Homo sapiens: one gene and its partner. The protein of the gene in region 1 purifies or fractionates together with the protein of each later gene. This does not show direct contact. Each region holds a gene or a part of one and is shown on either strand. Other genes may lie near its edges.

Region 1 (4,039 bases):
AAGCACTTCTCTGTATTGGTTATTCTAGTTATACATTTGTCTAAAATTTTTTCAAAGTTTTCACCTTCTTTGCCTTTGGTTTGAATTTCCTCCTGTAGCTTGAAGTAGTTTGATCATCTGAAGCCTTCTTCTCTCAACTCGTCAAAGTCATTCTCCGTCCGGCTTTGTTCCGTTGCTTGTGAGGAACTGCGTTCCTTTGGAGGAGGAGAGGCACTCTGCTCTTTAGAGTTTCCAGTTTTTCTGCTCTGTTTTTTCCCCATCTTGGTGGTTTTATCTACTTTTAGTCTTTGATGATGGTGATGTACAGATGGGTTTTTGGTGTGGATGTCCTTTCTGTTTGTTAGTTTTCCTTCTAACAGACAGGACCCTCAGCTGCAGGTCTGTTGGAGTTTGCTAGAGGTCCACTCCAGACCCTGTTTGCCTGGGTACCAGCAATGGTGGCTGCAGAACAGCGGATTTTTGTGAACCAGAATGCTGCTGTCTGATCGTTTCTCTGGAAGTTTTGTCTCAGAGGAATACCCGGCCGTGTGAGATGTCAGTCTGCCCCTACTGGGGAGTGCCTGCCAGTTAGGCTGCTCGGGGGTCAGGGTTCAGGGACCCACTTGAGGAGGCAGTCTGCCCGTTCTCAGATCTCCAGCTGCGTGCTGGGAGAACCACCGCTCTCTTCAAAGCTGTCAGACAGGGACATTTAAGTCTGCAGAGGTTACTGCTGTCTTTTTGTTTGTCTGTGCCCTGCCCCCAGAGGTGGAGCCTACAGAGGCACGAAGGCCTCCTTGAGCTGTGGTGGGCTCCACCCAGTTCAAGCTTCCTGGCTGCTTTGTTCACCTAAGCAAGCCTGGGCAATGGCGGGAGCCCCTCCCCCAGCCTCGCTGCCACCTTGCAGTTTGATGTCAGACTGCTGTGCTAGCAGTCAGGGAGACTCCGTGGGTGTAGGACCCGAGCCAGGTGCAGGATATAATCTCCTGGTGCGCCATTTTTTAAGCCTGTCGGGAAAGCGCAGTATTAGGGTGGGAGTGACCCGATTTTCCAGGTGCCATCTGTCACCCCTTTCTTTGACTAGGAAAGGGAACTCCCTGACCCCTTGCGCTTCCCGAGTGAAGCAATGCCTCGCCCTGCTTCGGCTTGCGCAGGGTGCACTGCACCCACTGTCCTGCGCCCACTGTCTGGCACTCCCTAGTGAGGTGAACCCAGTACCTCAGATGGAAATGCAGAAGTCACCCGTCTTCTGCGTCACTCACGCTGGGAGCTGTAGACCGGAGCTGTTCCTATTCGGCCATCTTGGCTCCATATATGAAATTTAATTTTTAAAAAATTGCTAGAATATAGAGTATACAGAGTATATAGAAGCTAAATGAGAGGAATTTTGAGAAAGGAAGTGGAACATAATTAAATAAAACGGAAATGAGGACAGGTGAAAGGAAGAGACCCAATCTTAATTAGAACGGTAAAGTTTTGAATTCTAGGAAGTACAGTAGAAAAGTACCAAAGCACTAATGTTGGAATTGGGAGTTATTTTGAGCCCAGAAAAAGGACTTCCTGCTATCTTATATTAGAGTTCTTTTTGCCTTTGTTATATGTAGGGAGTAATTGTGGCTGTATGGAAAATGGGGGCACTATGATTGCAAGTTTGCTTTTAGCTGGTTAAGGTATGGTGCCTGGGAATACAGACATGTTCTTAAAATTATTACTGGTGTTTTATAGAAAGGAATATTTATTGGTAAACAGCTTGGGATAAACAAGATGCTAGAAGAAGGAATATTAGGCAGAGACTTCATACACTAGTTACGAACCAGTGATAACTTGAATTATGATATGATATGCCACCCGCATCCTTGTTCATGTAAAGATATTTTACTCGAGCCCTATACCGTTTTTTTAGTATTCCAGAATAGCTCTCCTATTTTATTTACTAACCTCCTTTTAACATTTTTGTACCATTTATTTCTTTTATAAGTATTTTTTTCTAACCTTGCCTCACATTTCCATTCTGTATTTAAGACCCGTGGTATATGCATATACCTTATACAGTTCAGCCTCCATTTCCTATTGAAGCAGTTTCCCTTCTAGTTCATGGCATTTTTTATTTCTCTTTAGACATGAAGAGTATTTCTGGAGAAGAATCATCCCATGGAGTGATTATGACAAGGCTTACCGAAAGTGGACACCCTTCTTCAGATGCCTGGAAAGGTGAGAATTGGTTATATAGGAACCAGAAAAAATGGGACATAAATTTGCCACAAGAGGCTTTCATTCCTGAGACAATTTACACTGAGGAGGAAGATTTTGAATGTAGTGAAAATAAGAAAAGCTTTGATATTAATTCAGTTAGCTCAATTTGTGCTATACAAGTGGGAATTCCTTCAAGAAAGGGGTCTCCAAAATGTGATAAGTTTAAAACTTACTTCAAATTTAATTTAGACTCAGTAGGTAAGCAACATTCAGAATATGAATATGGGAATGACTTGAGTTTGAGTACAGATATTCGACACCAAAAAAGTCATACTACAATGAATTCCTATGAATGTTATCAATGTGGGAAAGCCTTCTGCCGAAGTTCATCCCTTATTCGACATCAGATCATTCACACAGGAGAGAAACCCTATAAATGCAGTGAATGTGGGAGATTCTTCAACCGACGTACAAACCTTACTAAGCATCAAAAACTTCATGCTGAAGCAAAGGCCTGCACAAGCAATAAATGTGGAAAGGCCTTCAGTAAAAGTGAAGACAGTAATAATCCAACACTCCATTTTGGAAACAATTTCTATCAATGTGTTAACTGTGGAAAATCCTTCAACCGGAGCTCCTCTCTTATTCGACACCAAATGATTCACACGGGAGAGAAACCATTCAAATGTAAGGAATGTAGTAAAGCCTTCAACAGGAGTTCAAACCTTGTTAAACATCAAAAACTGCATACTCGAGATAAGTCCTGAAAAAAGAAAAAATGAAAGATTACCTTCAGTCAGAATGCAGAACTCATTTAACATCATGAATTTATGCTGGATAAAATCTCATGAATATAATGTAAGAAAACATTTGTCAGATTTTTCTTTAAATGATATCACAGAATTAATGTTGGATAGAAATATCATTGGATAGAAATCTGTTTGAAGGAATTTTCCTGGTTTTCAGATGAAGCCATAAGGCTTTGGAGTTAAACCACAGTATCACCATACAAGTATTTGTTTATCATTATTTTGATATCCATTACCCTCACCTCTCCCTAGTTCATAAATAGGTCTATAGCATACTAATATCCACCTGATTTATTGACGAAGTAGACATTAGGCAAAGCCAAACAATACTCTTGGAGTTGATATTTAATAAAACTCAGCCCTTTTAAGAAGGTCACAAGAAATCATTAGCTCATGCGAATATAAGAGAATACTTCTAAGGACAGAAATCTCTGAATCAATGGCTAAGACAACAGTAACAGCCATTTACTCCACTCCTGACAATACCCTTTGTTGTCTTGCTGTTGAATGGAGACTAGAGTTGGGAAAGGGTTATCAACTGCAATGGGAGAAGTATGTATTGCTGTTAATCTATATGTATTCTTAAAATCTGCATTTGTTTATAGCAGGTCCTTGAAAAATGTTTTTGTTTTGTTATAATGTTATAATTGTTATGATGTTGATGAGAAAAATATCGATTCCCAGCCAGGGACACTGTGTGGAGTTCGCACACTCTCCCTATGTCTCCGGGTGCTCCAGTTTCAAACCCCAAAGATGTATACATTAGGTTAATTGACATATCTAAATTATCTCAGTCTGAGTTTGTGAGGAAGTGTGCCCTGCAGTGGAATGGCTCCTAATCAGGGTTTGTTCCCACCATTGCCCTGAGCTGCTAGGATGCGCTCTGTCCACCCATGGCCCTGTACTGGAATAACAGGGTAAATAATTATCTTATCTGTTTTTATTAATCCGTCTTAAATGTGTATATAGCTCAGATTTATTTTAATGTCTGATATTGGAAGCGTTTGGGGTCTTTAGAAGTTTGATGATGTTGTGACCAGACATTTGCCTTAGGAACTTAA
Region 2 (3,500 bases), on another chromosome or scaffold:
TTCTGTTGTCCTTTCCATGTAGAGTCATGGATGAATTACTTTCCTGGCATAGATGTGTAACAATACAGAGTATTTCTAGCCAAAGAAGCTCACCAGAACCCTGGTGCCCAGAGTTTTTACTGGGGTTCAATCACATCCTGCTCCCGTAGTGACCTCTAGTTCCCAGCTCTTCTGGAAGCAGAACTGACAGCACATGGCCCAAGCCCCTATCATAAGTCACATTGTCCAGTGGCTAAAGCGCCAGGCAAACAAAGACACTCCTATCAGGCATGATATTGCACAGGTCTATAGGTCACCTCCTAGTAACCCAGGGCAATGCCCTCTCTTCTGGGGTAAAATTAATTCCTCACAACACAAGGCACCGTCCACAAATTTAGTAACATATTTCTGAAGATTCTGGTGCTTTACACGAGTCTGTGCTCTGAGCATATGTGGAAACTTTCTACAAGAAAATGTACATTTCTGTTCAATAAAGTGGTAAGCTTTCATTATAATTTCCACTATTACTGCCTTAATAAATATATCTTTCTCTCTTCATTTCTTTTTGCTTACCAACCCTTTTTCCCTGTCCTGTACTTTCTATTTTAAATTAATTCAGTTTTAAAGAATGCTTAATGTAAGATACCTTATGTTTTACTGTTTTTTTTTCTGTCAAATAAAAACAATTTATGGCTTATTTTTTCTTACTTTGTGTCCATATGGCATTTTAATCTACTAAACACTGTCAGACATTTTGCTGAGATTTTAAAGTCTTAAAGTCTGAGGAATGTTTTTTCCATTTTTTTTAAGTAGAAAAACTGAGCCATAAATTTTTTTTTTTAAGACCAAGCCAGGCATAGGATTAGTTTTCTTATTCTGCCTAAATTCTGCAAATGGGGGTGTTTAATTGCTGAAAACAAATTTCATTATGTTCAAGCCTCAATCATTTTATGATCACAAGGTACCTGAAACAAAGATCTTACATTAGTAGATATATAAGATGCTTGTGTAGGGGGTGTATTTGATTGTAGATGTATTTTCTACCTCATTACTTCAATATTCTGCTGTAGCAAAATATATGAAATGCTACCTTGAATAGAAATAGTTAAATTTGGACACTAATATTGCTCTTTCCTCGTTATTGTTATATTCTGCACTGCTGTCTTAGGATGTCAACCATGGATTAACTGAGGTAAGTTTGGTGTAATAAAGCTCATGTTTAGAGTAAAATATACTCCATTTTCTCCTGAGTAATAGAAGAGCCAAAGATTCGTTTTTTTGGTGTGGTTAAAAAATGTAAATAAATAGATATATATGTATCATTTTTTAAAATACAGTCTGTAGAGATTATCTTGTATAACATTTCAGAAGTTTTCTGAAGAAAATGAAATTCTGTTAACATTACACCTATATGATGCCTCAACAATATTTGCTTTAGAATAGTTTCTGTCCTCCTCAAGTCTTCCAGTATAAAATGTAATGTGTCCTCAGAATATAAAAAAGCAAACTTTTATTTTAAAATTTAGCAAATGCCTACCTAATGTGGCTGAAAACATTTTATATTAGAGAAGTAAAACAAACTTCATTTTTAAAATTGATTAATTGATACTCAGAATGGTCACAAAGTTAAACTTTTTGTATGATTATCTTTCTCACTTCTAATATATAAAGTTCTAGCACTTTGGTTTAAGTAATCAACAACCCTAGACTACCCTTTTAACACTTGGGAACATTATAATACTTTCTTTATCCGTTATAGATGTCAGGTTTTGCTTTGATTTGCATTTTGTTGGTTGCTATGTTTTTCCCAGCACTTGAACCAATGAAGCATTTTGAGTTAGCTTTAAATTATAGCTCTAATATTGTTTGCTTCCTCATTGTCAAATAGAATTAGCACATAAAATTATGAAAACATAGAGTTTTGAAGCCAAAGGGTGCTTTGGAGATATCTAAATCTTTTTGAATTTCAGAGAAGTAAAATTAGTTTTTATGATCATTAGCTAGGCAGTGCCACAAATATAGGATGGAGGTAAACCTTGTCACATGAAAAATACTGAAGAGTGAATGTTTAGAATGTAATAAAATACAATTTAGGGAGAGCATGATTAGGACTTAAAATATTTAAACTACGTACACTTCCCAGCAGGGGCAAAGCAAAGACTAAATGATGCATAGTGATATATAGAAATGCAGATTCAGGCTGGGCACAGTGGCTCACGCCTGTAATCCCAGCACTTTGGGAGGCCGAGGTGGGCGGATCATGAGGTCAGGAGTTCAAGACTAGCCTGGCCAACCTAGTGAAACCCCATCTCTACTAAAAATACAAAAAATTAGCCGGGTGTGGTGACAGGCACCTGTAATCCCAGCTACTCGGGAGGCTGAGGCAGGAGAATCGCTTGAACCCCAGAGGCGAAGGTTGCCGTGAGCCTAGATCGCACCATTGCACTCCAGCCCCGGCATCAGTGCAAGACTCTGTATGGGGGAAAAAAAAATGCAGATTCAGACTATAAAGAACTGTCTAATCACTAAGAAGTGGATTGTTTTAGGGTGTATTAATTCTTCATTAGAAGTCTCATAGCAGGGGCTCTGAGTCAGGGCAGGCACAAAGATATTGTTTTACTGGGTAGATGGTAGAAGTAGGTCGTCCTCCAACTACAAGAATGTGTGACTGGCAATTCATAACTCTTTATATTTTACTGCACTATTAAAATACTTAGCAATCAATATATTACCTGCCAGGATAAGTAATTGTCTATAAAGTGTCTAATGTCTAATAATGATAATAATAGATCAGTTCTCGTAACTTTAAAGGCTAACAGAATAGTAATACTAATGGTACTTTTTTGTATATTAAGTAAATGAAGAGATTATTGGACTCATAATAATTTTGATACCCTAATGACATTATACTCAATATCTGTTAAATGAAGGAATAGACAGATTACTTATCATTAGCCTCAGTTGCTGCAGTTGCCCTAACATGTAAGAATTGGCTATCGCATTTAACATAGGAGCCCCCAATTTTAGAACAAATTTGCAACCTCATTCACTGAGATTTGCAATTAACATATGCTAAGCAAAAGATACTTGCAGTATATGATTGTATAGACTCTCAAGTATACAGTCGCCCCCTAAAATTGGGAATTGGGTTCATTCCAATGCCTCATTTAATTTTTAATAATTCTGTAAGCAGCATGTTTTATTTGTAATTCCAGAACCACATGAGTGAATAAACAAAGAATGTAGTCCACTTTATAAGAAATGTCAGCATCCACAGTAAGTATATCACAAATCAACTTGTACTAATAAGTTAATTTTTTATTTCCAGTTGGCAGATATCCCTGTTACAATCTGTACATATCCATTTGTATTTGATGCCCAAGCAAAAACTACTCTGTTACAGACCGATGCAGTCTTACAGATGCAGGTAAAATATTATTTGAGAGGGTTTTTTTTTTTAATTGTTTCTTTGATGTTTCTGGACAGTAAATATTTGAAATTTTCCTAGGATCAGTAATGAA

Evidence for each region.
Region 2: the proteins of ZNF215 (region 1) and HERC4 purify together in Homo sapiens (affinity purification with mass spectrometry; one large-scale study listed by BioGRID and IntAct). This does not show direct contact.

The regions. Positions count from the first base shown.
Region 1 is NC_000011.10:6,953,596-6,957,634, forward strand, and holds part of ZNF215 (zinc finger protein 215), read left to right. Parts: intron 1-2,094; coding exon 2,095-2,936; 3' UTR 2,937-4,039. UniProt on the Homo sapiens protein: May be involved in transcriptional regulation.
Region 2 is NC_000010.11:67,956,784-67,960,283, reverse strand, and holds part of HERC4 (probable E3 ubiquitin-protein ligase HERC4), read left to right. Parts: intron 1-1,147; coding exon of another isoform or gene 1,148-1,171; intron 1,172-3,307; coding exon 3,308-3,406; intron 3,407-3,500. UniProt on the Homo sapiens protein: Probable E3 ubiquitin-protein ligase involved in either protein trafficking or in the distribution of cellular structures. Required for spermatozoon maturation and fertility, and for the removal of the cytoplasmic droplet of the spermatozoon.